7 linked regions of the Homo sapiens genome follow. The protein of the gene in region 4 interacts with the protein of the main gene of each other region in a pairwise test. Each region holds a gene or a part of one and is shown on either strand. Other genes may lie near its edges.

The links.
Region 1: the proteins of FTCD (region 4) and SPTBN1 interact in a two-hybrid assay, tested with the Homo sapiens proteins (one large-scale study listed by BioGRID and IntAct).
Region 2: the proteins of FTCD (region 4) and USP34 interact in a two-hybrid assay, tested with the Homo sapiens proteins (one large-scale study listed by BioGRID and IntAct).
Region 3: the proteins of FTCD (region 4) and DGCR6 interact in a two-hybrid assay, tested with the Homo sapiens proteins (one large-scale study listed by BioGRID and IntAct).
Region 5: the proteins of FTCD (region 4) and GAD2 interact in a two-hybrid assay, tested with the Homo sapiens proteins (one large-scale study listed by BioGRID and IntAct).
Region 6: the proteins of FTCD (region 4) and DNM1 interact in a two-hybrid assay, tested with the Homo sapiens proteins (one large-scale study listed by BioGRID and IntAct).
Region 7: the proteins of FTCD (region 4) and RDX interact in a two-hybrid assay, tested with the Homo sapiens proteins (one large-scale study listed by BioGRID and IntAct).

Annotation. Positions count from the first base shown.
Region 1 is NC_000002.12:54,641,327-54,644,826, reverse strand, and holds part of SPTBN1 (spectrin beta chain, non-erythrocytic 1), read right to left. Parts: intron 1,845-3,500; coding exon 1,698-1,844; intron 505-1,697; coding exon 241-504; intron 1-240. UniProt on the Homo sapiens protein: Fodrin, which seems to be involved in secretion, interacts with calmodulin in a calcium-dependent manner and is thus candidate for the calcium-dependent movement of the cytoskeleton at the membrane.
Region 2 is NC_000002.12:61,191,588-61,195,087, forward strand, and holds part of USP34 (ubiquitin carboxyl-terminal hydrolase 34), read right to left. Parts: intron 1,394-3,500; coding exon 1,314-1,393; intron 1-1,313. UniProt on the Homo sapiens protein: Ubiquitin hydrolase that can remove conjugated ubiquitin from AXIN1 and AXIN2, thereby acting as a regulator of Wnt signaling pathway.
Region 3 is NC_000022.11:18,904,936-18,909,119, reverse strand, and holds the start of DGCR6 (protein DGCR6), read right to left. Parts: upstream 2,801-4,184; 5' UTR 2,746-2,800; coding exon 2,636-2,745; intron 2,556-2,635; coding exon 2,395-2,555; intron 1-2,394. UniProt on the Homo sapiens protein: May play a role in neural crest cell migration into the third and fourth pharyngeal pouches.
Region 4 is NC_000021.9:46,149,080-46,152,579, forward strand, and holds part of FTCD (formimidoyltransferase-cyclodeaminase), read right to left. Parts: exon of another isoform or gene 3,215-3,500; intron 2,902-3,214; coding exon 2,813-2,901; intron 2,681-2,812; exon of another isoform or gene 2,659-2,680; coding exon 2,479-2,658; intron 1,447-2,478; coding exon 1,309-1,446; intron 1,172-1,308; coding exon 1,040-1,171; intron 1-1,039.
Region 5 is NC_000010.11:26,215,526-26,219,573, reverse strand, and holds the start of GAD2 (glutamate decarboxylase 2), read right to left. Parts: upstream 2,801-4,048; 5' UTR 2,765-2,800; coding exon 2,689-2,764; intron 1,965-2,688; coding exon 1,905-1,964; intron 1,733-1,904; coding exon 1,583-1,732; intron 532-1,582; coding exon 298-531; intron 1-297. UniProt on the Homo sapiens protein: Catalyzes the production of GABA.
Region 6 is NC_000009.12:128,223,879-128,227,378, reverse strand, and holds part of DNM1 (dynamin-1), read right to left. Parts: intron 3,129-3,500; coding exon 2,990-3,128; intron 1,345-2,989; coding exon of another isoform or gene 1,206-1,344; intron 1-1,205. UniProt on the Homo sapiens protein: Catalyzes the hydrolysis of GTP and utilizes this energy to mediate vesicle scission and participates in many forms of endocytosis, such as clathrin-mediated endocytosis or synaptic vesicle endocytosis as well as rapid endocytosis (RE).
Region 7 is NC_000011.10:110,286,615-110,290,114, forward strand, and holds part of RDX (radixin), read right to left. Parts: intron 594-3,500; exon of another isoform or gene 386-593; intron 1-385. UniProt on the Homo sapiens protein: Probably plays a crucial role in the binding of the barbed end of actin filaments to the plasma membrane.

The sequences.
Region 1 (3,500 bases), on a different chromosome or scaffold from region 4:
CAATCCCATACACAGACAGCCAACACCCAATACTCCTAATACTGTGTCTTTCTAGTTTGGACAAGTGTCTTTCTATTCTGGAAATGTTCTACGATGCTGTTAGAGCAAGTAATATTTTGGGTTAAAAATGCCTTCCCATGGAAGGTGGACTCCTGATAATGCAGTGGGTGAGAAAAGACTCTAAGGACTATGGCTGTAAAACAGAAATACACCCAAGTCCATGATGGCTTGTCCACTTGCCTGTTGCTTTTTCAGCAGGATATTGACACTGGTCAGGTCTTTGCCATAGTCATCAGACTGAATCTGACTCTCCAGGCCGTGCAGCCATTTGTCTAGATCTGCACAGCTCTGGGTGAAAAGTTCGGCCTTGTTTGCATCAAAGAGCCGCTGGGCCTTTGTCTGGGTAGTGGATTCAAGGACTTCCCACATTTTATGTAAACCAGTGAGTTTCTCCTTCACCACAGCTTCCGTCTCAGGCTTTTCTGAAATGAGCTGCATTCCTTCCTGGAAAACAAAACCAACATGGTTGTAAATAAACAAGTTTGCTACAGAAAAAATGTCACTGTGAAAAACAAACCTAGGACATTTGATCTGTGATTTAACCATTCACTCAATACACACAGTCTTTCCACATGAAGTTACTGCTCAATAAAATCAACAACGACCCCTAGGTTGTGTACATTACAAGGGTTTCATGGGAATTAAGCAATAAATGTTACATGCTGAAATAGTCTCAACTGGGGCAACGGAATACTGAATGCTAATAACGTGACTTTATCTCCTCCATTCCATGACCAAAGATGATATACAACACATTATTATTATTATTATTATTATTATTATTGTTATTATATTGAGACAGAGTCTCGTTCTATCACCCAGGCTGAAGTACAGTGGCGTGATCTCAGCTCACTGCAACCTCTGCCTCCTGGGCTCGTGCCTCAGCCTCCCCAATAGCTGCGATTACAGGCACATACCACCAGGCCTGGCTATTTTTGTATGCTTCATAGAGATGGGGTTTCACCATGTTGGCCAAGCTGGTCTGAAACTCCTGGCCTCCAGTGATCCATCTGCCTTGGCCTCCCAAAGTGCTGGGATTACAGGCATGAGCCACCGTGCCCTGCCAACACATTATTTTAACCGTGAAGAATCTGAAACACTATAAAAAGTCTAAAAGGAGAGAAGTCGGGGGGAAGGGGGGGACTCCATATTCATCTTCAGTTATGCTGCCCAGAATCTCTCTGTGCAAGAATAACACATCATAGTAATTATTATAGCGCCTGGTATACAGTAGTCTCATAGGAAAAAGCAATTTTAAAAAATATGTATATATTTAAAATTATGTGCAATCTGTCACAGTACAACACAAATAATATGATCAAGACAGTGGAATCCCTGCATGAGAGCTCACAGTCCATCAGCAACAGCAGATGAGAGGCACAACAGAAACTAAATGCCTAGTATTCGTTCTACGATAAATCAAGCATTTTCTACTAACTGGTTGGGTTTCTGCTTTTTTCCCTTTTGATGGGTTGAAGTCAGGAACCCGTACGTGCAAAGGGAGCTATTACTGGCTGTGTAACTTACGTAAATGTACAGATAAGATCAGATATGCTGGAAAATGTGCTAAATAAAAAGGAGTTTATTACTACCCTGTTTGTTTTCTCACCATGGCCACATCAAATGTTTTAACTCACCTTCTCGATTTTGTCAAGCCATTCTTTGTTGGATGCAAGTTCTGCCATAAATGCTTGATGCTTCAACCATTTACTGTGCAGATTTCTGGCTTCATCGTAAGACATGTCCTGGGCTGTGAGCATCTTCTCATTGATCCAGAGAGACAGCTACAGAAAGATCAGAAGGATTCAGAGATTGTGATCCTAGACATCAGCCTTTTTTCCGCCTGGAAAGGGTTGTGTTTATGTCATATTATGCATACTACACACGTTTCCATGGTGACAGACAACCAAATATTTAACTTCACAACTCTGACCCGTCATGACAGGTGTCCATTAGATGGAGCTTGTACCTGAGCTCTGCTCCAAACTATATCTAACATTCATTCCAGAAGTACAAAAGCTCTATAAGCCAGTTTTCAAACTGTTTGGCACTCATAACTGGCTTTCCCCACAAAAGGCCCGTGTTTAAAATTCTACCCTAACCACTCCAAGACATGACTCTTTTTCTCTTCCAAATACCTGTGTCAGCTATACCATGTTAATCATGATTGACTTTTACTCCATTTGGCAATCCTTCTTACTCTCTTAGTTCTTTTTATTAAAAAAAAAAAAAAAAAACTACTTATTTATTACCTCCCCCTTTTTGTGGGTGCATCGAAGGGAATGCAAAAAGGCATAAATAACTTGCTCACTGTAGGGCTAAGGCAACAATCATGCCCTTTCAATGTTTCCTTCAAGTTTGAGTCACCTTCACCTCTTTTTCTATAGCCTCTAGTTCTCTAAAGAACCTTTCATTCACACCAAGAACACTTCACAGGACTTGATTTTGAGACCCAACATGTCTGCTTGGATCTGAACTCTAGAGAGCCGCACAAAGGCTGCTGGCCGCTGACAGACCTGAGAAAGGAGCTCTCTTACCGGGGTCAGCCAAACGCCAGGCCCAGACCCACTTTTGCTGGCTTCCATCCCGAATCGGCCCTGGCTCATTACTGCCTGCCTGTAAGGGCCATGCCAGAGTCCTGATTCCCGCCCCATTTGCTTTGCTAACCTAGGAAGAGCTTTTTGTTTGCCCAGGCTGAAGATACACAAAAGAATGCAGAGCCAGCCTGGAATCAGAAGTAACCAACTGAAGGGACCATGTCCCTTCTCCTGAGTGACCGTGAGAAGCCCACTTTTACACCAGTTATTGTCACAACAAATTGGCACCTTAAATCCTTCATGGTTCTACCAACAAAGATCTAGAAGTGACACATAAAACCAGTAGAAGTACTTACAGAATTAACACTTCCAAGGCCCTTCCACTCCCACTGTGGGCTGCTGCCAGGAAAGGCTCCCCGAGATTTGTTTTTTGGAAATGATGTCAAGGAGAGCGACGTGGGTCACAGGAGCCCTCTGGCTCTGAAAGTGGGTGAACTCTTGGGCACTGTCCCTATTCTCAGGCTATTCACCACACAGGGAATGGGGCAGGGGGCGGGGGTGGGAGGGGGTTAAAAGCAAAAGGTAGTGAGATTTTTGATTTCACTCTTTGTTGAGGGAAAAACTAGCAAATCTCATAAAGTCCTTTGTCATCAAAGACCATGGATCTATTAGACAATAAAGGCACGCACTTCCTACTTGGAAAAAATTATCTATGTTCCAGTTATCTGGGCAGCTAAAATCTGAAAGACTATGGCTATTCAATCTTAGGGGAAAAGAAGTTAAAGTAAAACTTAATGACAAAATTTTTCCCAGTATTCTGTACATACACACAAAACAGAAGGCATTTATTGATTCAAAGTGCCAAGGACATTCACATATTTTCGCTATTCATAACCACTTACC
Region 2 (3,500 bases), on a different chromosome or scaffold from region 4:
GGCTGCTTCTATAGCACTGGAAGCTTTGGAGGCCTTATATGGTTAGGCTTTGTTTTAAGGGAAATTTGGGGGCACAGTGAGTTCTGTCTGTGAAAGAAGTCAAGCGAAGGGAGTCCTGCGATGCAGAAGTAGAGAAAGCAATAGGGAGCAATAGGTAGTGGGAGAGTACAGAAACCAAGAAACTACCCAAATCAGGAAGAATGAAAAAGAACAGCAGTAGCAGTGGAGAGGGAAAACGAGATCTCCAATTGACTGAACAGAACACTCAGCTCAAAAATCAACTGATAAAAGTCATTTTCTGAATGCCTACTGTATGCTAAGTCAAGTGAGCTAAGATCAGTGTATACTAGCCTCTGAAAGATTTCTACTGTAGAGAACAACGTGGCATTTCTTCAGGGGATGGAGATGACTCTGATAAGGTCTCTACACTTGAGTTCTGTTTTGGAAAAGTAGAGAAACCACCAGTAGAGTACAGGATGGCAAACATCTAGGAGAATCCAGAGCACACTACAGCCTGGTAGGAGGCTGAACCAGACTCAAAATACTTCAGGAAAGCATGATGTGGGTCAAGGGTTGCACCTAAGGAAGGTGAATAAATTCATCTCTTCCAATGGGGTAGAGCAGATGCAACCAGGCAGTACAATCAACAGTTTTTTCAGGGACTGAAAGGTAGTGGGGATCCTTTATGCCTGATCCAAGGAATGAGCCAAACATTAGTACCTCCTCCTCTTCCCAATTCTGCCTTTGTAACTTAACAAGCATTATTTATGCAGCCACTTAATTTTAAGGAGTTGGCTCTTAGACACTTAAGGTAGGAACAGTAATCTTTCCTGTTTTCAAGGAGATCGCTGTAAGAAAACAAGTGCATCAGACCCCTGAAAAACTACAGATTATGAAAAGCTAAAGGACAGACTGCTGACAGGGTTTCTGCTAGAGGTTTTGGAATGGTGGAAAAGAGGTAGAGACAGGGAGGTGAAGGAGAGGAAGAAGTGGCAAGTGCCTTTTCCCCCACTATCTCCCTGTTTTGGATTTTCCCCACAACTGTTGATATACATCTATAAATGAGAAATTCAATTATAACCAGCTTATTTAAAATATCCTCTATGATAGAAATCTACTTAAGTTAAAAAAATCAAAGGGAAACTAGATGCCTAATATGTAATAGCTAGTATTTTCATTCATTCATATGTTACCTATCAAGATTCTAAAATGTCCCCACTTTTCAGCAAGTCTTCAACCCACTGTTCCTAAAATTATTGACCACTTGGTCAGATAAGATTAAAGACCAATCATCTAAAACTCATTTTCTTTACCTGAGTCTGGCATAGCTCAGTCCAAAGTTTGGGGAACAGTGCAAGATGAAGTGGCAAACCTTCATAGGCAACTAGGACACCTAATATTTGAAAAGAAATCAGAATAGGTTATAATTATAAATTATACTAGTGAGATACTCAACTCTGCAGGTACAATATTACAGCTATTTCTAGTCATAACTGCATATTTTCTATATTTTAAAGTACATAAAGGGGAAAAATTCATTCCAATGTTTAGTGAAATATCTTAGAATGTGGTACTTTGAATTTATTTATATCCTATACCTCATTCCTGAAGGATATGGGACTTAAATCAACTCTTCTTTTTTGAGTATTAGAACTTTATCTGGGAAAAGAAAAAGTTACTGCAAGTGGCTCCAAATCTTTCTTGGATTAAGGTACCACTCTGCCTATTAGATAATTTTCATAGGGTGGCTAGACTGCAGGAGGGAGGAGGGGAAAGGTAAAAAAAAAAAAAAAAAAAAAAAAGTGGAGAATTAAACATATCTTTCCTCTTTTACCTTCTTTCTTCAAAGATAGAATGACCTTTGTGGTACATTTAAGTAAATGCGGCCCTTAACACCAGTTTCTTGGCTTGTTCCCAGGATCTTCTGAGTGGACCGCATCTGGCACTATGTCAGAGAGTGCTATTTGGAACCTCTATGAATTTACTTCTCCACTTCTTGACTATTCCAGATGTAAAATATGTCACTAAGATGTGTGCCCCTATCCTCTGTCATCCTATCTCTGAAAGTACAGAAGCTTCATTACCACAGTCCTAAATGAATTTCCCATCTTCCACATCCCCTAGGGTCCCCAGGGCAAGTATAATCATGGAGAAGAAGAAATATAACACAGACCATCCTCTTCCAGTTAAGAAAAGACTGAGTTAGACAAGGAGTCAGCAAACTTGTTCTGGGAAGGGCCAAATAGTGTTTGAGGCTTTGTGGCCATGCTCTGTTAACACAGCTCAACCCTGCTGAGGCAGTGTGAAGGCAGCCTTAGACAAGAGTAAGGAAATGGGTGTGGCTGTCTTTCAGTAAAACTTTACAAACACTGAAATGGGAATCTCATAATTTTCATGTCAGAAAATATTCTATATTAAAAAAAAATTTAAAAATATGAAAACTATTCTTAGCTAGCAGGTAGCCATGGTTATACAAAAACAGGCAGCATGTGGGTTGTAATTTGCCAAACCGTGGGTTAGACCAAGGACTTGAGAACATCCTACACAGGCAAGTCAGGTCACTCACTCAGAACTTACCAAGGATGCCTAGGATCCCTTCCACAGGTAAGCCAATTTATTTTCCTGTCAAGATGAGTCCCTTTAGACACAAGAGGCAAGGAAATGCTACTTCCCCTTTATCCTAACCTAATCTGGTTGGTGTTTGGCAGCATATACCCACCACGGTATCACCACACACATAGGTAAACAAGGACATGTCATCACATCTGTGGCTATAGGGAAGAGAGTTCCTACGTTCCCATGTTCCTGTATCCTAATTACTCATCAAAGTAGAGGAAGGGTTAGCAAACTATGGCCCTCAGGCCAAATCTGACCCATGGCCTGTTTTTATATGGACTTGTGAGCTAAGAATGGCTTTTTCTTTGAGACAGACAGTGTCTTCACTCTGTTGCCCAGGTTGGAGTGCAGTGGCGTGATCACAGATCAGGGGCAGCCTTGAACCGCTGTGCTCAAGTGATCCTTACACCTTAGCCTCCGTAGTAGCTAAGACTGCAGGCTGGGACAATTTTCTTAAAAAAATATTTTGGGGCCAGGCGCAGTGGCTCATGCCTGTAATCCCAACACTTTGGGAGGCCAAGGTGGGCGGATCACCTGAGGTCAGGAATTCGCAACCAGCCTGACCAACATGGAGAAACCGTCTCTAGTAAAAATACAAAACTAGCAGGGCGTGGTGGCACATCCCTGTAATCCCAGCTACTTGGGAGGCTGACGCAGGAGAATTGCTTGAACGCGGCAGGCGGAGGTTGCGGTGAGCCGAGATCGTGCCATTGCACTCCAGCCTGGACAACAAGAGTGAAACTCTGTCAAAAAAAAAAAAAAAAAAAGTTTTGGGCCAGGTATGGTGACTCACGCTGGTAATCCCGGCACTTTGGGAGGCCGAGGCAGGAGAATAATGAAACCCCGTCTCTACTAAAAATACAAAAATTGGCTGGGTGTGGTGG
Region 3 (4,184 bases), on a different chromosome or scaffold from region 4:
GACAGCTCCATAACACAGGGAAGCAGGGAAATGTCATCATCTTCACTCTACTGATCAAACATTGCTACAAGTGCCAGGTCCACTACGAGATTCCACTAGATATGCAACCAAAAGGCAAGAAGAGAGCCACGCCGGCTGCCTGGGCAGAAGGGGCCTGGCCTTAGACACGACCGGGAACACAAAGGAGGCAGGAGCAGCCAGTCACCCCTGCCAAATCAGCAGGAGAAGCAGAAAGTCAACGCAGGCATGCCTGCTGCTGGTGGAACCAGGACCTGGCCCAAACCTTCTGAAGCACAAACAGCATTGGGCCCAGGCAGTTACTGAAACTCCCCATCCTGCTAGAAAGAACTACAACTCTGTGGAAAAATGGCCGATTCCAGGACTGAGACACGGAGAAAACAAGAAAAGATGAGCCTGAACACATACCTGAACCAGAAAGCAAGAAAGTGCTCACAGAATGATGGGGCGGCATCTAAAGGTGCCTGGAGCGCCCCCAACTGGCCACACATGGCACAGTCTGAGCATTAAGGAATAATGAGCCATGCACTTGGGATTAGTAAACTGCATGCATCTTACAGCTCAATAAAATTTTTAAAAAGACAGTCACCCAGACATTTAGGGGAAGAAGTAATGCCAATTCTACACAAACTCTTCTGGAAAACTGAAGAGGAGAGAACACTTCGAAACTCATCCTATAAGGCTGGCAAAAACCCTGATACCCAAACCAGGTATTACATGAAAACTATAGACCACAGTTTATCATGAACATAGACAAAAAAATTCTTAACAAGATTTTAGCAAATCAAATCCAGCATACATAAAAAGGATACTACAGCACGACCCAGTAGGATGGAATTCAAGTGACTGTAATTCACTGTAGTAATAGAAAATGATTCACCACGTGATCATCTCAAGAGCTGCCAAAAAGGAAACTGCCAAAATCCAACATCCATTCTTGATAGAAACACACCAATCCTGGAGCAGATGGACACTGCCTGCCTTCTGGGGAAGGGGGCCTTGCCCCGCTAGGAGGAATTTTTGCCACATTAAACCTGCCTCTAATCAGGCTCCTACCAGGAGTCCAGTGTACAGTAAACCCAGAGAGTGGAGAAGCAGGTTAAATGCACGAGGAAGCATTTCCTCTGATAGATCCAGAGCAGGGCATTCTAATTATAGAATTAGACTCTATAAAAAGTCAATGCCACAATAAATGTTGGGGACTGTTCCAGAAGCAAAGAGACCAAAGTAACCAATTGTAGTACATGAACTTGGACTGGATCCTTACTTATAAAGCAACAATTTGCCACAAGTTAGGTACCATGATGTGGCCATGCACTGAAAGTCAGGAGACACCTGGAACAGTTAATTTCTCAGGGGGCTACCCTCTGCAGCTGTGTAGGAGACCGCTCTTGTTCTAGAGCACTTGCTCCCAATCCAAGGCCAAGGTTGACCCCACCACCCAGGTTGTCTGGAGGCATTCTTGGTTTTCACGACTAGGGAGGGTACCCCTGCCATCCTGCAATGCGCAAGACAGCATCTCACCATAAAGACTTACCCAGCCACAAATGTCAGCATGGCTGGGTTGAAAATCCTGGTCTCCAGGAATGCTGAAGACTCTTGGTGAATTCTATGCTGTCACATGTATGTATTTTGGGATGTCAAGAACTAGAGCAAAATGTTAACTACTGAACTTTCGGTGGAGAGCACAAGCGTATGCACTACACTGTCTTTTCAGTTTTTCCAAATGTTTGAACTTTTAAAATAAGAAGTTTGGGAAAAATAAAACAGCAAAGGTGGAAATCTGATGGTGCAGGGGGACCTGCCCTATATAATTTGCAGGAAAGGGCTCCGAAGCCCAGGAAGCATGCGGCTCAAGTGGGAAGCTCTTCTGGTTTGGGAGGGCGCCACAGGAGACAGTGCTTAGGAATTTGATGTGCAACTAGAATGAGGCCCTGCAGGCCTGAGAGGGAACTGACCCTGAAGGGCGCGCACAGCTGTCAACAGACCTCCAACTACCCAAGGGCGCTGCTCACCTGTCAACAGAACTCCAATTACCGGAGGGCAACGCAGTCAGATCTACCACCAGAGTCAGCCTGCCGGCCAACCAAGCACGGAGGCCTAGGGCCATCAGGCCTGGAAGGGGGTGGGGCACAGGGAAGCCCGAACAGGGAGTTTCTGCTAAGAAGGTGGGTGCTGCGCAACTGAAAACAAAACTCGTTGGACACATTGGTCACCAAAAAGGCGCTGTCTCAGTCTCTGCGCCCTTGATTTTGTTAATCTTAGGGACCTCTTCCGAACACTCCCAAGGAAGGAGCCGAGCTGCACAGATACCAAGAGCTGCCGGGAGGCGCCGACCCCGAGGAGGCGGCACCTCCTCCCGCTGCCCCCGCGCACCTCGATGCTCGTTCTGTAGGCGCAGGCGCTGGTTGTACAGGCTCTTTTCGGTGAGGTGCTGGATCTCCAGTAGCCCCTGCACGATTTCGAACACGGTGCCGTCGAGAAGCGCCAGGGCCAGGTCGCTCAGCGTGGTGTAGGACAAGCGCTGCTGGAATGAGCTGCGGGGTAGAGGAGCGCGGTGAGCCCCGGCGGGACACGATGCGGCCTCGGCAGGCCGCCGCCCGCCCCGCCCGCGTACCTGGGCAACTCCTTCACCAGGCTCTGTAACGCCGACAGCAGCTGGTAGTGTCGCTCCTGCTGCCGGGCACCGTCCGCCACCTCCTCCAAGGCGCCCGCGTAGCGCTCCATGGCGCGGACGCCCGCTAGCCGCCGGCTGCAGCGACGAGCGCCCCCAGCTCACGTCATCCCGACCGCGGCGCGTCCCGCCCCTTTTATGACAGTCCCTAGCGCAGCGCGCCCCGCCCGTCTTAGGACAGTCCCCGATCGCGGCGCGCCTCGCGCCTTCCCCGCCCCACCACGCGCCCCGCCCCTTGCGTCATTCAGAAGGAGACGCGCCCCGTCCCTCCGTGGTGGCTGCAAGGAGGGTTTCGCTCAGCTGAGGCTCATACCTTCCTGCTCCCCGGGCCACTTTAGAGGCGAGACTCCGTCGCCTGGATATCGCAGGACCATGTAGAATCCCACCGGCCCTTGCTGAGTCATTGCGGGCTGAGGTCCGGGCTCCGCGCCGGCGCGCCTGCGAGGTGGACTGTCCCGGTCACCGGCCTTCCCAGAGGGAGGGGTCTCGGGCCAGAGCCCACAGGACCTGGGTCTAAGGCACCATCGCGGCCGAGCAGTGGTGTTGGGGTCTGTCTGCGTCCTCTCTGCCCCCGGAGTGAGACAGACAAGACCACCCTAGAGCCTCTGGGCCAGGAGAGTTGGAACCGGAGTCCCCATCTGGGCCTGCCGTGGTCGCCCCGGGGTGCCCAGCCCCCAGCCGGAACCGCGAGCCCAGACTGCCCTCTCCCCGCTCCCCAGACCAGCTGCTGGGCCGGGGCTGGGGAGCTTCTGGTGGCTGGTGTGGGCGGCAAGCCACCCAGGCGCTGAGGCAAGAGACCGAGGACACGAGCTGTTCCAGTATAATAAAATATAAAACAAGAATAGTTATACCAGATATAGATCTTAGATATGATTATATATGAATATCAATAATCATTAGTTGGTAGCAATTACTCTTTATTCCAGTATTATAATAATCCTCACTCTATAATCATAACCTAGGAAAAACCAGGCCATACAGAGATAGGAGCTAAGGGGACACAGTGAGGGGTGACCAGAAGACAAGAGTGCGAGCCTTCTGTTATGCCCAGACAGGGCCACCAGAAGGGCTCCTTGGTCTAGCGGTGACGCCAGCGTCTGGGAAGATGCCCGTTGCCAGGTGGGCCGTGGTCTAGCGGTAGTGAAAAGTGTCAAGGAACAACACCTGCTACTTAGCAGACCGGGAAAGGGAGGCTCCTTTTCCCCGGGGGAGTTTAGAGAAGACTCCGCTCCTCCACCTCTTGTGGAGGGCCTGACATGAGTCAGGCTTGCCTGCAGTTATCCGGAGGCCTAACCATCTCCCTGTGATGCTGTGCTTCAGTGGTCCCGCTCCTAGTCTGCCTTTATTATGCCTAGTCATCCTGTACACCTGGCTCTGCCTTCTAGCTAGCAGTAGTCAATTAGTGAAAGTACTAAAAGTCTCTGATATGCAGAAATAATGGCATAAGCTATCTTTCTCTCTGTCTCCTCTCCCTCTCTGCCTCGGCTGCCAG
Region 4 (3,500 bases):
ATGGGGCAAAATGCAAGCACTTGGAAAATATGGGTGGGAGGCAGGAGTGGAGGGCCACCTGTATCTTCTCTGTAAGAAATTATACAAAATGTAAAGTCACAAAAAATTTTGTTAACAGCCAAGAATACAACAGACAAGGCCACAAACGCACCAATGATTGAGGCTGGGTTTTGGAAAACCACTGTGAATCCAGAGGAAAGGAGTGGAAGAGAAAGTAAAGACGGAGGCAGAGAAGACATCAAAGCTGCTGCAGCATCACGGGGTCCTACAGCTAGAGAACTAAATAACTGGGTCAGCGATCTAATAGAAGAAAATATGCCCGAGACTAAACAAGGACGGAATCCACAAGTCACGAGAGCTAAATCAGTAAAAACACAAACAGACAAAACGTCCCCAAAAAATCCAGTTAAGTGGATTGTGCTTATTGCGAAAAACACACCTAAAACAAAGTGACCTTGAGTGAAAGGACAGACCAAGGCGGACAGCGGCTCTGCAGTGACCTCGAGTGAAAGGACAGACCAAGGCGGACAGCGGCTCTGCAGACGCTGCCACACCCCAGCAGGACCTGAGGCCCCGGTGGAACCCAGACTCCAGAAGCCTTGAGGCCCAGGTGTCCACAAGACAAAAGGAATCACTTTCTGAAGGAGCCGCTCCGTGGATGGGGATCTAAGTCCCATAGCTAAAGGCACACACATCCATGAGCTGCCAGTTCCAGGGGTGCAGGACGCCCCGATGGAGGTGGTGAGAGGAGGCACAGGCCCCTCCACGGGAGCATGGCCGGCCCAGGAGGCAAGACCAAGCAGAAAGGGTGGGGTGTCCTCTCCGTGGAATTTGCACAGCTGAGCATATCATAGGTCACAAAAAAACCTCAATAAGGTGTCCAAAATAAAAAGTGAAATCTCATCTTCTGAACACAAGTCAATAAAATGAAGGGGGAGGAGGGGGAGGGAAGCTGCGCCCCAGGGCTGTGAGCTCCGCCACCGCCTCCCCACCCTCCCTGCACGCCCCTGTCCGACCCTTCCTCGGCAGCCCGGCCCACCAGCCTGATCCGCTGCTCCTCCTCCAGGATGAAGAGGTTCTCCTTCTCGCAGTAGAAGGCGGCCGCATCCAGCAGAGCCTTCAGGGGCACCAGGCCCACCAGCTGTGAGCCCACCACTGGGAGGCTCAGCTCCTGCCAAGGCACAGGCAGCGTCACCCCCTGGGGGCTGGCTGGAGAATGGCCCTGGCTGGAGGATGTGGGGCCCCCGCCCTGCCCACGGGACAGATCGGCTCGCCCCTCACAGCAGCAGCGGCTGCTCCCGGGCTCACCTGTGCTTCTCGGCAGGTCTCCTCGTAGACCGTGTGCAGTGCCGTGACCTCAAAGTCCAGAAGATTGGTGGACACCTGAGCCAGGTTCTTCTCATCCAGGTACCAGCCAATGCCCTGAACTTTCTTCAGACGTCCTGGCTGCAAAGGAAGAGCGTTCCCCAGCCTGGACTAGGAAGCTCATCCTGCCTGGCCCTGCCAGTCTCTCCTGGCACTTGCATTCCCCAGCTGGACGGGGAGGAGCCTGTGCCTGGGTGGGTGCTGTGGTTCTCCTCCGTCCCTCACTGAGCTGGCCGGGGAGGGCCAGAGAAACTTCGCTTGCCACAGGGAAACGGAGGCCCCAAGGGTCAGACACCGGAGGCCCACCCCGGCAGGCCCCCGCCCAGCCTAGGCCCTGCCTTCCAGCCACGCTGTGTCCTAGATGTTGGGGGAATGCTGAGGGGTGGGGCCCCAGGCACCCCCATGCCGTTCTCCCATCCCATCTGCTCCGCTCCCGACAAGTCCCCTCAGCCCCGCACTTGTCGGGGTGACTGAGTCCACGTGGGGGGACTCTGACCTCTGCCCTTGGCCGGGGCCTAAAGCAGGACTTAGAGGTCCCTGTGCTTTTGTGCTGAGTCTGCAGGTCGGGAAGCCGGGTCCCAGGACCTTGGCTGTTTGTGGGACCGGGGTCTCTGAGTGGGGAACAGATGGGCAGGTGGTCCCCCCCGCTTTCTCCGGGTATCTATACCCGGAGTGACGCTCAGACCGGGTGACCACTGCTGTGCAGACGTGGAGGGAAAGGCCTGGGGGCACCTGAAGGTTTGTAGGGGTGTCGGGGCTCCCAAGGCATCTGGAGGGATATGGGGGGCCCCTGAGGGCACCTGGGACTCCGGAAGTCGCTGTTTCCCAGCAGTATGGAAATGCTGCCACATGTTAACAAAGGGAAGTCCTGCCTCGTTCCCTGGAAAATCCCCAGGAGGCCAGAGCTCCCCAGCTTCACTCCGCCCCTGACCTGCCGACCTGCGCGGTCCCCGCACGGTGTGGACGCGGAGGCTGGGCCGGTCTGCAGGTGGGAGGCCGAACCCTGTCCGGCCGGTGCCCCATCCCCACCGACCTCCCCGCCTGAGGCTCTCAGCCTCTAACCCTTTCCCGAGGGGCTGGGTGGGGCTCCATGGGGTCAGTGAACGGGGTCACCTGGTCCTTCCCGCGGCCCTGCTCCCGCAGGTTGAGCGCGATGCGGTGGGCTTGCTCCTTTGTGCCGAGCAGGTTGATGTTAAAAGCAATGAGGAACTTCCTCGCCCCCGTGGCCGTGGCCCCCCAACTGGGGACAAAGGAGCTGGGACCAAAGTCGGGCGCCCAGTCGGCCTGCTGGAGCTGTGAGCAAGTTCGCTCTGGGGTGAGACATCCCCCACGGGAGGGAACAGCCCCCCGGGGTCCCGGGAAGGAGGGGCCCGGCCCAGCCACCCCAGCCAGGACAAAGGGGCAGGTCCACCTCCTTCCCAGGCCCGACCGCCCGGGGTGGGGGCACCTTCTTAGGGAGGGCCTCGTACTCCCCGGCCCGGATGGCCGGCAGGGTCCGGCGACTGTCCATCCTGGCTGCCTCGCCGTACAGGTAAACTGCAGGAGAGCCCGGCGGTCAGGCCTGGACCGGCAGGGGGTCCAGGACTCAGTTCCTGGAGGACGCAGGTGGAGGGGCTCCCTCCAGCCTAACCCAGGAATGGGCCTCTACTGCACCCTCTCCTGGGGAGTGCCCGTTCTCCGCCTTGGATGGATGCGGGTGGTCCCAGTGGACCCTCAGTGTGGGCCAGCACCCCTGCCCACCCCCTCCTCAGAGGGCCCTGAAAAGGCGAATTGCAGGGTTAGGATGGAACATGTGGGACATGCTAACGGCAGGACGTTCATGCTTCTGTTTTCTTTGTATGATAAACAGAACCGCAAGCAACCACATAAATATAACGGCAGAGAAGAGGAAAAACTCGTGAACCCGCACACCAGTGTGACTGTGACGTGGGCCCTGCGTCGGGATTTCCTTCGGGGGGACTGGCATGACCGTGACGGGGGTTACGTGTGCCCTGCATGCCGGCGTGACCGTGACGGGGGTTACGTGTGCCCTGCACGCTGGCGTGACTGTGACCTACGTCCCTGCCTCGGGATTTCTTTCCAGGAGCGCTGGGTTGGTGCAGCCTAGGGGTGGGTATGCACTTTGTCCCGTTTGT
Region 5 (4,048 bases), on a different chromosome or scaffold from region 4:
AATATTTGCTTCTATACCAGTGGTATAACCTCCGTGTCCAAATACATGCAACGTAAAATCTGATGATTTACACTTAAATCATGTTTCTGACATTATCAACTTCAGAAGCATGAACAATAGCAGTGGAAGGTGCTTTGGATTAGAATCATTCTAATAATGACTATTTTTTACATGATGAAAATAACTTTGCAATTTTGAAAATATCAGTAACTCCATCAAACAAAACATTTTATAGAAAAAAATAAAATAAAAATTGTAAACGAAAAAAGAGCTTTATTATTTTCGATGAGACAATACCTGTTTTAATTGCATATTTTAGAGTTGTTTGGCAATGCATCAAAATTTCCTCCAAATTTTGTGGTTGGTCTGCCAATTCCCAATTATATTCTTGGAGAAGCTCATTAGGATAATGGAAATCAATCACTTTGGTTGATCTATCGAAACTTTTCACCACATACTGAAGTAAAATGTTCATAACATCTTGCAGAAACGCCAAAGTGGGCCTTTCTCCATCACACGCCGGCAGCAGGTCTAAAGAATGAAATTAAAATGCCACATTTTAATTTTACTTTGAAAATATTCAAGGCAAGATCTTGATGAGGCAATAACATTTCTTTGAATTGAGAGATTTCATGTTAGATAAAGCTTTTGGAAAGGCAGAACATTTTTCTTTAAAAGGGAGACATTTTTCAAAGGTGAAGGGAATGAATGAGATAAATTATGATTTCTTCTCTTCCCCAAATTAATTACTGCATTTCAATTCATAACTTATATTGTTTGCCTTCTTTTTTTGAAGAGCGTGTACCTCCGTTTATCTAGTTCACAGGAGTTCGTCTTAAACGTGTTTCTCAGTAAACCATCTTACATGTTTACATAAATATTTCACGTCAGAAGTGTTTGTCTCGAATGCCTTCGGGCAAACCAAAGTGGAACAGGTGCATTAGGATCTCTGGTCTGATAGGAAGGCCCGCTGTTTCTAAAGTCAGTGTGTGTGTGTGTGTGTGTGTGTGTGTGTGTGTGTGAGAGAGAGAGAGAGAGCGTATGCATGTGTGTCTGCATGTGTGTGTGCGCGCGTACATTTGGGAGACGGTGTGTAAGTGCACGGGGGTAAAACTCGGCGCGCGGGTTTCATGTGAATGGAATCGTTCTCTTGTGCAATTGCAGCTACAAATCACTCTCGTGATCTAAAGACCTAAAAAAAATGCAATTCTGAATTCTCGGGCACGGTATTTGGAAACTGAGTCCCACCCGAGGCCCCAGCGGCCTAGGGAAGCCAGCCGTCATCGATTCAGTGAGCGCACGAGCGCCTGGATCGTCGGCCACCCGCCATCCCAAGGGCCGCGCTGGGGGAAGAGCGCCACGGCCTCAGAGCCCTCTTGGAGCTCCGAGGCCAGGTTCGGGGGCTTGGACCCAGCGGGCAGGTCCCGCATTTCTCGCTTTTATCTGAAGATTCTGGCAGGTCCCGCCTCCGCTGCCACCTCGACGCCCCTGTCCGGCTCTCAGCGCCGGACCCGCACCGGCCGCGGTGGGCGGGGCAGAGAGAGGGGCAGGGGCGCCCCGGGGCTCCCCGCTGAGTCTTTACCTGTTGCATGGAGAAACGCGTAGTTGACATCCACTTTGGAGCAGCTGCAGGGCTTCTGGTCGCAGGCGCAGGCGGCCTTCCGGGCGGCGGCCCGCGGGGGTTGGCTCCCGCCGCTCTCCGCCGGCTTCTCGGCGTCTCCGTAGAGCAGGGCTGGGTAAGGACACCGAACGCGGGCCTCGTCAATCCTCCGCCGGGCCCGGCTCCCTCGCTCCCGCCTACCCGCAGCCAGGAAACCCCGACTCCGCTGACTGGGATGCGGAGGTGAGAAGACTGCTTGGACCCCGCGGGCCGACCTTGGCCGCCCCGGTCCCTGGGCACTCACCGCACAGTTTGTTTCCGATGCCGCCCGTGAACTTCTGAGCCACTTGGCACCAGGCTCGCGCTGCAAGGAAGAATAGGCAGGCAGACAGCGAGGCAGAAAGAGAACAACAGACGGACGTGTGAAATTTCGTTCTATGTGAAAATCAATCAGTCCGGGGTCCTAGGAGGGGCCGCCTTCCTCCTGGGGGCCGCTCAGGACTCGGTGAGGCCGGCAGGTGCAGAAGGCAAGCGGGAGGCTGGCGGCCCGGGCCAGCCCTCATTTCCTTTATCTGTTTCCCGAGGAGAAGCCCACACCGCTGCCCTTCCAGGTGCCAATCGGCTCAGGCAAATTCCTCTCCCTGCCTACCTTGGACGAGTTTTCCTAAACACTGAAGCTATCCATTTTTTCGCAGACTGTCTTTCTAGATAAAGAAATCTCTCACCTTTCCCATTTTTTTTTTCTATCTTCACGGTCACTCCGTCCCACCCCAGGGTCCAGACACCCGGATCTTAGCAGCGCCCCAGGACCACGGAATTCCATGTCCCCGAGACACCGCGGTCTTTGGGGGGCTCTTCCAACCTTCTGTGGAACGGGCCTGAGACTATTTGGGCGTCTTCCCAGGGTACAAGAGGCTGTAGAGGTCTTGAGCTCTTGGGCCGTCAAGGACTTAGCCCAAAAGCAGGGAGAAGCGCCCGAAGAAGTTTCCTGTTGCAGGTGGAAAAACCTCCTTCGTCTTCTCCGTAGTTCCGCAAACCCCAGACCACCGCAAAACTCGCCCGCCGCAGGCCCCCGTTCTCCTTCCTACCTGTGCCGGGATTCTCGGAATCCCCAGAGCCATCTTCCGACCCGAAAGACCAAAAGCCAGAGCCCGGAGATGCCATCGGCTTTGGAGACTGGAGCAGGTCGCCTGCGAGTGCGAGCTGCGGGCGAGCTGCCTCGGGCTTGGCCCTGCGCGCGCGTGCGTGCCCGTGTGGCGGGAGGAGGGCACCGCGCGGGGACCGGCGGGGCCGAGCGGCGAGGGCGGGTGTCACGCAGGAACAGAAAACGTGCGTGTCTGTGCGTGTGTGTATGCGAGCTGGAGACAGGGTTTAGGGACGTGGCAACCCTTTGGAAGCCGGGGAGCTTTAAAAGAGACCGGGACTACCTAAGGGTCCTCGGAGCCCGGACTCAGGAAAGCGCGGAGAGCCCCAGAGCATTTGAGGGAAAGGGAGCCCAGTGGGGATGAATGAGGGGGCGGCGGAGGAAAAAAACACGAGAGAGGGAGGGAGCTGAGTCGTGAGGATGCGAGGCAGACCATGCACGCCAGCTGGAGTCAGAGTGAGGGGGTGGGAGGCGTGCCAGCGCGTCCTCGGGCGAGCCAGAGGCGGGAAGTGCGGGCGGCCGCTGTCCCGGGTGCTGCCACAGCCGCTGCGCGCCAGCGTCAGCGAGGGGCAGACTGGGGAGACCTCGGCGAGGCGGGAAGCGTGGCCCAGAGGAGTTTTCTGTGTGCATCGATTGGGGTTTTGTTTGAGGTCTGGCTCCAGCTGAGGGGAAGGAAGCGGGGTTCCCGCGCCGTTTTCCTCCAAGCAGGTGCTGAGGTCACTGCGACCTCGAGAGCTCGCGCCCCGGGCGGGCATCAGGCGCCGTTCACGAGCCTGGGGAGGGGACGGCGGGGGAAGGGCTCCTACCCGCTGATGGGCTCATTTCAGCGCCTTGGTAGAACCTGACGCCTGCCTGCTGAACCGCGCCGTACCCGGGGGCGCACCGTTCCTGCGTAGCCAAGGGCTAGATCGCGGGACCCACCGTCCAGGCTCTGAGTGACGGCTGGGGAGAATGACTGCTGATTGAGGCAATTAAAATCCACGCTGGAGTCTACTGAGGACCTCGGGCTGGGGAAAAAAAAATAAAACGAATGGAAACTTCTTGGAAGAGAATGAGGCAGAGCGGCCAGAGTCGGCAGGATTGATGGCGGGTGGGGGATGGAATCAGGGCATTTGGTGACCTTGGCCCGCGGAGGCGTGGAAGCGCCCGCTGCTTGCGTGTAAGGGGGATCTGTGTGCGCCTGGGAGGGGAGAACAGGGTTTCCAACTAAGCAATCTCGGCTTTACAAATCCGAGTAGGAAAGAAGGCATCGCCTGCAGGGCCCTCGTTTTAAGGGGCTTCAAACCAATGCCCCCCCTCGCCCC
Region 6 (3,500 bases), on a different chromosome or scaffold from region 4:
AAAGGCATGAGACCAATCTTTATGTAGCAACATACAAGGATTACACAACACACTGCTCAGTAAAAAAGAATGCGCGGTGGCTCATGTTTGTAATCCTAGCACTTTGGGAGGCCGAGGCAGGTGGATCACCTCCGGTCAGGGGTTCAAGACCAGCCTGGCCAACGTGGCAAAACCCCATCTCTACTAAAAATACAAAAATTAGCCAGGTGTGGTGGTACATGCTAGTAATCCCAGCCACCCGGGAGGCTGAGGCAGGAGAATACTTGAACCCAGGAGGCAGAGGTTGCAGTGAGCCAAGATGGTGCCACTGCACTCCAGCCTGGGCGACAGAGCAAGATTCCATCTCAAAAAAAAAAAAAAAAAAAAAAAGGAATGGAGATGATTGATGCTTATTTGAAACTCAATGCTAAGGTGGATGTGCCTCCACCCACCAGCATAGGGAAGTCCTTCAGATATAGGTGAGGCTGGGCTCACCCCTGGCACCTCTGATTTAGCCTGCTGGAGAAGCTCCTGCAGGCAACTGATTCTCTCGCACTCCCCTGGGAAGAACTGCTTTAGACAACCTGGCTAAAAATCCTCAAAATGCCCAAAAGCAGACAAATAGGAAAAAGGCATCTAAAAAGTCACAGACAACTCAAAAGAGACCGCCCCTGTCTCTCACGCACGGATTACTGTAAAGTGAGTAATCCAATATGCTTTCAGGCAAATTGGTTTTGAGGAACTAGGACAGCTCCCCCTGCCCAGGAGGCCCTGACCTCAGACCCCTTCCTCTGTCCTTCCTAAAACTGAATCACACTCTGCTTCTCTTTTCTGAGACTCTGTTTTGCCATCTGCAAAATGGGAATAACAACACTACCCACGTCTTAGGGTGGTTGAGAGGACTGAGTCAGATAGTAAGGGCAAGCACTTAGCGTGTGCTTGGCACATAGTAGGTGCTCAGTAAACAGCTGCCATCTCCTTAACATCATCTTCATCACTAGCATAGGTGCCACCAAGGAGGCTTGGGTTGGAGTCAAGTCTTCTGGGATGGGGGCCTGGAGGGGTCATGAGTGCAAGTACCCAGGGTTAGAAACTGGCAGGAAACACTAGGGCTGGGTCCCTGCGGGTAGCCGTGAGGCCGGCTCAGCAGATCCTTCTGCCCACGGGAGGCTGTGGCCACAAGGAATGGACGGCCAGGCCCAGCCCCGCCCAGGCGGCCGTCATACCTTTTCGCTACACTTTCTGATGGTGGCTGTGAGCTCACTGACTACCATATCCACACACTTGATACTGGGCTCTTTGAGCTTCTGCACCTGCTTTTTCACTGTGGCTTCAAAAGCGAGGTCAGGTGTGAAGAGGCCCGTCCTGCACCCGGGGAGGAGGTGGGGACAGGAGGAGGAGCAGCCGTGGGTGGGGAGGAGAAGTGGGTGAAAGCCAAGCAGAGACAGGAATCCAGGGGTGGAGAGGATGGCACGGGCACGGGGGAAGAGAGAGAGACATCGACACAGATAAAGAGAGAGAGAGAACAGAAGACAATGTGAGCGTGGGACCGGCCCTCCCTTGCCACCCGGGGTTGGCACCTCCCAGGTGCTGCCAAGCATCCCCTGGGCTCCATAGGTATGGCCAGAGGTACGAGGGACCAAGCCCCTGCTCCGTACAAGACCCCTATTGAGTTCAGATCCTCTTCCCAGGGATGCTCCCCTGCTCCTCGGCCTCACTGAGGCTGCCTGCTCTCTCCCAGTGCCGTCTTTGTCCACAGCCTTGGGTTCTCCTAAGGAGCTGACCCAGGCCAGGACAAGGCCAGGACCTCATCCACCCATCCTGTTCAATTCTACGTTTCCCAGTGTCCCAGAATTTGCTTCATCCTGACTCCAAACCTCAGTACCATTCCCTATCTCTAGGGTTGCCGCATCCAGCTGCCCAGGCCATGCACTGCACAACTCCAGGGGGGTCCATTCCCGTAAACCGTGGCGCAGAGGCTGCCTCCTAGGGTTGCAGTATAGCAGCCTGACCTCCCTCTCCAGCTCCCTGCTCTAGTCCCGCCCCTCCCTTTCTCTTCAAGGGGCATTCCTGGCCTCTCCTCCACAGGGGTTTGGTGGAACCAAAAGACAGAAAGAGAAGAGGAAAGACAGAAAGAGTAGAGGTAGTGATAGAGAGGGGCCGGGACAGCAGTGGGGAGAGGAAAGGAAGGGAGGCTGGAGGGTGGAATCGAGGAGCACTGGACTTGGAGTCCAGAGCCGTGGCTTCAAGTAACAGCTCTGCCACCTCCTGACTACTGTGACTTGGGCAAGCCACTTGATCTCCTGGAGCTTCAGTGTTCGTGCTGTGAAATGGGCACCGTCCTCCCTGTCCTGCCTCCCTGCGTGCTTCTGTGAGGCTTGGATGGTGGGGCAGATGGGAGAAGGGCTCTATCCCTGGAAAGCCAGATGTGGATGGAAGGGAGGGAGAGGCCCTGAGTGAGGGTCTTACGTGAGCATCCTGTGTGAGGGTCCTGAGTGAGGGTGAGATGAGTATGGGGAGGATGAAGGACAGCGGGGAGCCAGGGCACCTGCTAGTCCTGGGTCCTCTGCACCCCCTCTGGCCACCCAGGCCCACCGAGCAGTGCCCGAGAAGGCCCTGCATTTCACCTGTCTCCAAGGCTAAGGTTTCCCCAGACCCCTCCCTGGAGCTCCCAAAGATGACACCTCCGAGGACAGGGAGGGGGCTCAGGGTCCCCTCAAGCCCTATTCTCTGAGCTGGGGGAGCTCTTGGTGGGCTCTTGGGGTAAACAGCCAGCCATCATCCCCGTCTCACCCATGTCCAATCCCTGGGTCCCCAGACCTGGGGGCCAGGGGTGGGTGAGGCCCTCTCAGAGGCACATTGTCTCCTATTCAGTGGTGGCCTGCCTCCCCACCCCGCTGAGGTCTGTACATGCTACCGAGGAGGCAGGGGGGGACATGGGGAAGGAGCGCCTGGCAGCAGTGCAGGGCGGGGCAGAGGCGGTGGGGGCTGGCCCGGGCCTCCGGGTTACCTTCTTGGTGCACTGTCTAACGGTGCTGATTAGCTCCGAGATAACCATGTCCACACACTTGAGACACGGTTCTCGGATCTTCTTCACCTGCTTTTTCACAATGGTCTCAAAGGCCATGTCTGGGGTAAACAGCCCCGTTCTGAACGCCCGGAGCGGGAGAAGGGCAGAGTGTCACAGGCCAGTGCCGGCCAGGAGGGCCAGGCCGAGGCTCCTCCCCAAGCCCACGAACTCTGCCTGAGGGGCCCTTCCACTACCCCTCTCTGGGCCTCAGTGTCCCCAGTTGTAAAATGGGAGGGAGGGGTTCTAATGAAGGGTTTTTTGTTGTTGTTGTTATTTTTTTTGAGACGGAGTCTTGCTCTGTCGCCCAGGCTGGAGTGCAGTGGCGCAATCTTGGCTCACTGCAACCTCCGCCTCCCGGGTTCACGCCATTCTCCTGCCTCAGCCTCCCAAGTAGCTGGGACTACAGGCGCCTGCCACCACGCCCGGCTAATTTTTTCGTATTTTTAGTAGA
Region 7 (3,500 bases), on a different chromosome or scaffold from region 4:
TTCCCTAAGCCTAATTTTAATTATTTTAAATTTTTTTCTGCCTTTTCGGACTTAGAAATGACCTCTGAACATAATTGTGGTCTCTCCAGAAACCAAAATATTCCAAGAGAACTCATCTGCCAATTTACTGGGAGAAAGCTGCACAACAAAGAACAGTATAAACTGAATAAGGCAACTCTGGCAGTCCAATCAACACAATAATGGAATCTACTAAAGAAGTTCTTAATCATTTTATTTTTCCTGCATGGGCCCTGCTGGTGAAGCCTATGAACTCTTTCTAAGAAAAGTATTTTTAAATGCATAAAATACATGCACACAATACAGAAAATTACAAAAGAAACCAATTACACTGGAATATGATTATCAAAATATAAAAAACACAAACCTTGAGTAATATATATGCTTTTTTAATACTTTAAGTAACAGTTAAGTTATTTCGAGACAGCTTTAATGTATTCCAAAAGTATCTACCGTTTCTATTAGAAACAGTCTCTGGGCTGGTTATGGTGGCTCATGCCTGTAATCTCAACACTTTGGGAGACCAAGGCAGGAAGATGGCTTGGGGCCGGGAGTTCAAAACCAGTCTGGGCAATCTACAAAAAATAAAAAAATTAGCTGTGTGTAGTGATGTGCACCTGTAGTCCCAGCTATTCTAAAGGGTCACTTGAACCCAGGAGTGATGGTGCCACTGCACTCCAGCCTGGGCAACAGAGTGAGATCCCATCTCTATAAAAAATAAAAATTAAATTAAAAAATAGACGACACAGTCTCTGGTACTGTACTGCTAATGCTAATGTTGTCTATACTCATAACAAGAAAATGTAAAAATAAAGATGTAACTTTTTCCCCATTCAAGGTCATAGGTCCCCGGGTTTAAAACCTTTAATATACAAAGAACTATGCTTATTATGCTGTTAGCTCAGTGTTAATAAATTTTATGGCAATAATAATGCACTTTTACCTAAATAATGACATGTCATCCCGTCATCCCAAAGTGAAGCAAAGAGGACAAGAATTTTTAGCTCCATTTTGCAAGTAAAGAAATAAGGCCAAAAGCAAGAAGGGTAGTGAATACAGGGAGCATCTGTAGAATGCTCACTCTCCACTCTGCCTACACTTCCTATCTTCACAATAACTGCCCTCCCCCTTCCTGCCCAAGACAGGTGTTACAATCTCTCATTCTTCTAAAAAAGAAATTAAGATTCAGATAAATGACTTGCTCAATGTCAGGGGGCTACTTAACAAGACATAAGTCCTTTAAAATCCTAGTCTTGGGCTCTTTTGATTATCTTATTCTACTTTTCTCAGATACCATTTTAGACAAGTTCATTCGAAACAATTACTAGGGCTTTTCAAGAAGTAGGCTATTAAAGCTCTCTATTGTTAGCAGGTCAAGAGACTACCTCTAAAGATGTTTTAAGTGCACATTAATAACTGGTATGATCATCTCTGTAAATGGATTTCCTGTAAGGGTGAGAGGCAGTTTTAAATAAGATATTAAGTCTTGCTCATGTAGAAATGATTTCTGGTTTAATGATATTTTCAAGGAAATGAAATATTCAACGTTTGAGTAATATACATGTTACTGAAAATGCAAAGCAAATTTCTAAAATTTATAAAGCTGAACTGCAATATTAACACCAAAGTTTTACACTGAGTTTAGGATCTCTTCTAAGAGTTTTGTAAATTTAAAAAGGAAAATCATACCTGTATTGTTCCTAAGGTGAGCAGAAAACAAAATAATACACTATCATTTGCAATTATTAAATACTAAAAGGTAAGAAAGCTAAATCCAGTTCAACTTCCTCATTTCACTCTTAAGAAAACATTAAACATTCACATAAAAATGTTTAGAAATGGGAAAACAGGTTCATGCAAGTCACTTATATAACAGGAAAGAAGCAAACACAAAATAATTCTCACAAATAATTCTACCCTTAATGTGCTTTGAAACATCAGATATTATAGCTTATTTTCAAAACAGAACAAAGTCAGTATGTTTCTTAAATGTCTTTATAATTAGACAATATTCTCTAACACAGTCAACGAGGCTATATGGCAGTTCTATTGCTATAAAAAAATTAAGCTTCTAATTTTCTAGATATTAACTCCCTTTTTTGAAAAACTGATACAATGCCTGGTTCACAGTTGGGCCTCAAAATGTCTGTTGATTTTGTTGGTGAATTAATCTTACACATAATACTAGTTTTAATTTTTCTGTTGATTAGTGTCAAGGGCAATAGTTTCCTCTCTTTTTTTATGTTGTAAAATGACCAAACTAATAAGCATCACTAAGAAGAGAGAACCAACATGAACATGGGGAACAAAAAAAGCTCCTTACAGCTGGGCGTGGTGGCTCACACCTGCAATCCCAGCACTGTGGGAGGCCCAGGTGAGCGGATCACCTGAGGTTGGGAGTTCGAGACCAGCCTGACCAACATGGAGAAACCCCCATCTCTACCAAAAATAAAAAATTAGCCGAGCGTGGTGGCGCATGCCTGTAATCCCAGCTACTTGAGAAGCTGAGGCAGGAGAATCACTTGAACCTGGGAGGCCGAGGTTGTGGTGAGCCAAGATCGCGCCATTGCACTCCAGCCTCGGCAACAAGAGCAAAACTCTATCTCAAAAAAAAAAAAAAAAAAAAAAACTTTTTACAACTAGGCCTCCCAAATTCAAGCCTTAACCATCTCTATCCAAAACTGTTTTAATAATTTCAATTAAGTTGACAATCAAATTAAAGGCCAGATAATTTGACACACTTAATGATAACTGTAATTACCATGCTGCTTGTTGATTAGATATTAGCAGTAAGCTTTCTGGTGATATATACTAACTTTGCTGAATAGCCAAACTAAGTTTTTATAGTTTTTCTAAGTCTAGAACCTATAAACAGCTTAAGTATCAGGAGTCCTCACAATGGCTAAGAAAATTTAATCCAAGCCAAAGGGATCTAAAGTCAATTAACCACAGCTGAGATTTTCTATGTTCCCATTCTCCCTTTCACTCAGAGTCCTTATGTTGACTGGGGGCGGTGGCTCACACCAGAAATCTCGGCACTTTGGGAAGCCAAGGCGGGTGAATCACTTGAGGTCAGGAGTTCAAGACCAGCCTAGCCAACACGGCGAAACTCCGTCTCTACTAAAAATATAAAAATTAGTCCCGTCTCTACTAAAAATATAAAAATTAGTCAGACGTGGTGACCTGTTTGGTGGTGTGCATCTGTAGTCCCAACTACTCGGGACGCTGAGGCAGGTGAATTGCATGAATCCAGGAGGCAGAGGCTGCAATGAGCTGAGATCATGCCACTGCACTCCAGCCTGGGTGACAAAGTGAGACTGTCTCAAAAAAAAAAAAAAAAAAAAAAAAAACAAGGGTCCTTACGTTGCATTAATGCATCCACATTATTCCATGTACTCACCAGGATTTTTTGTTATAAACAAAAATACCCACTCTGGTTAACTTATTAAAAGATTATCAGTCAATTTACAAAAACAACAGGA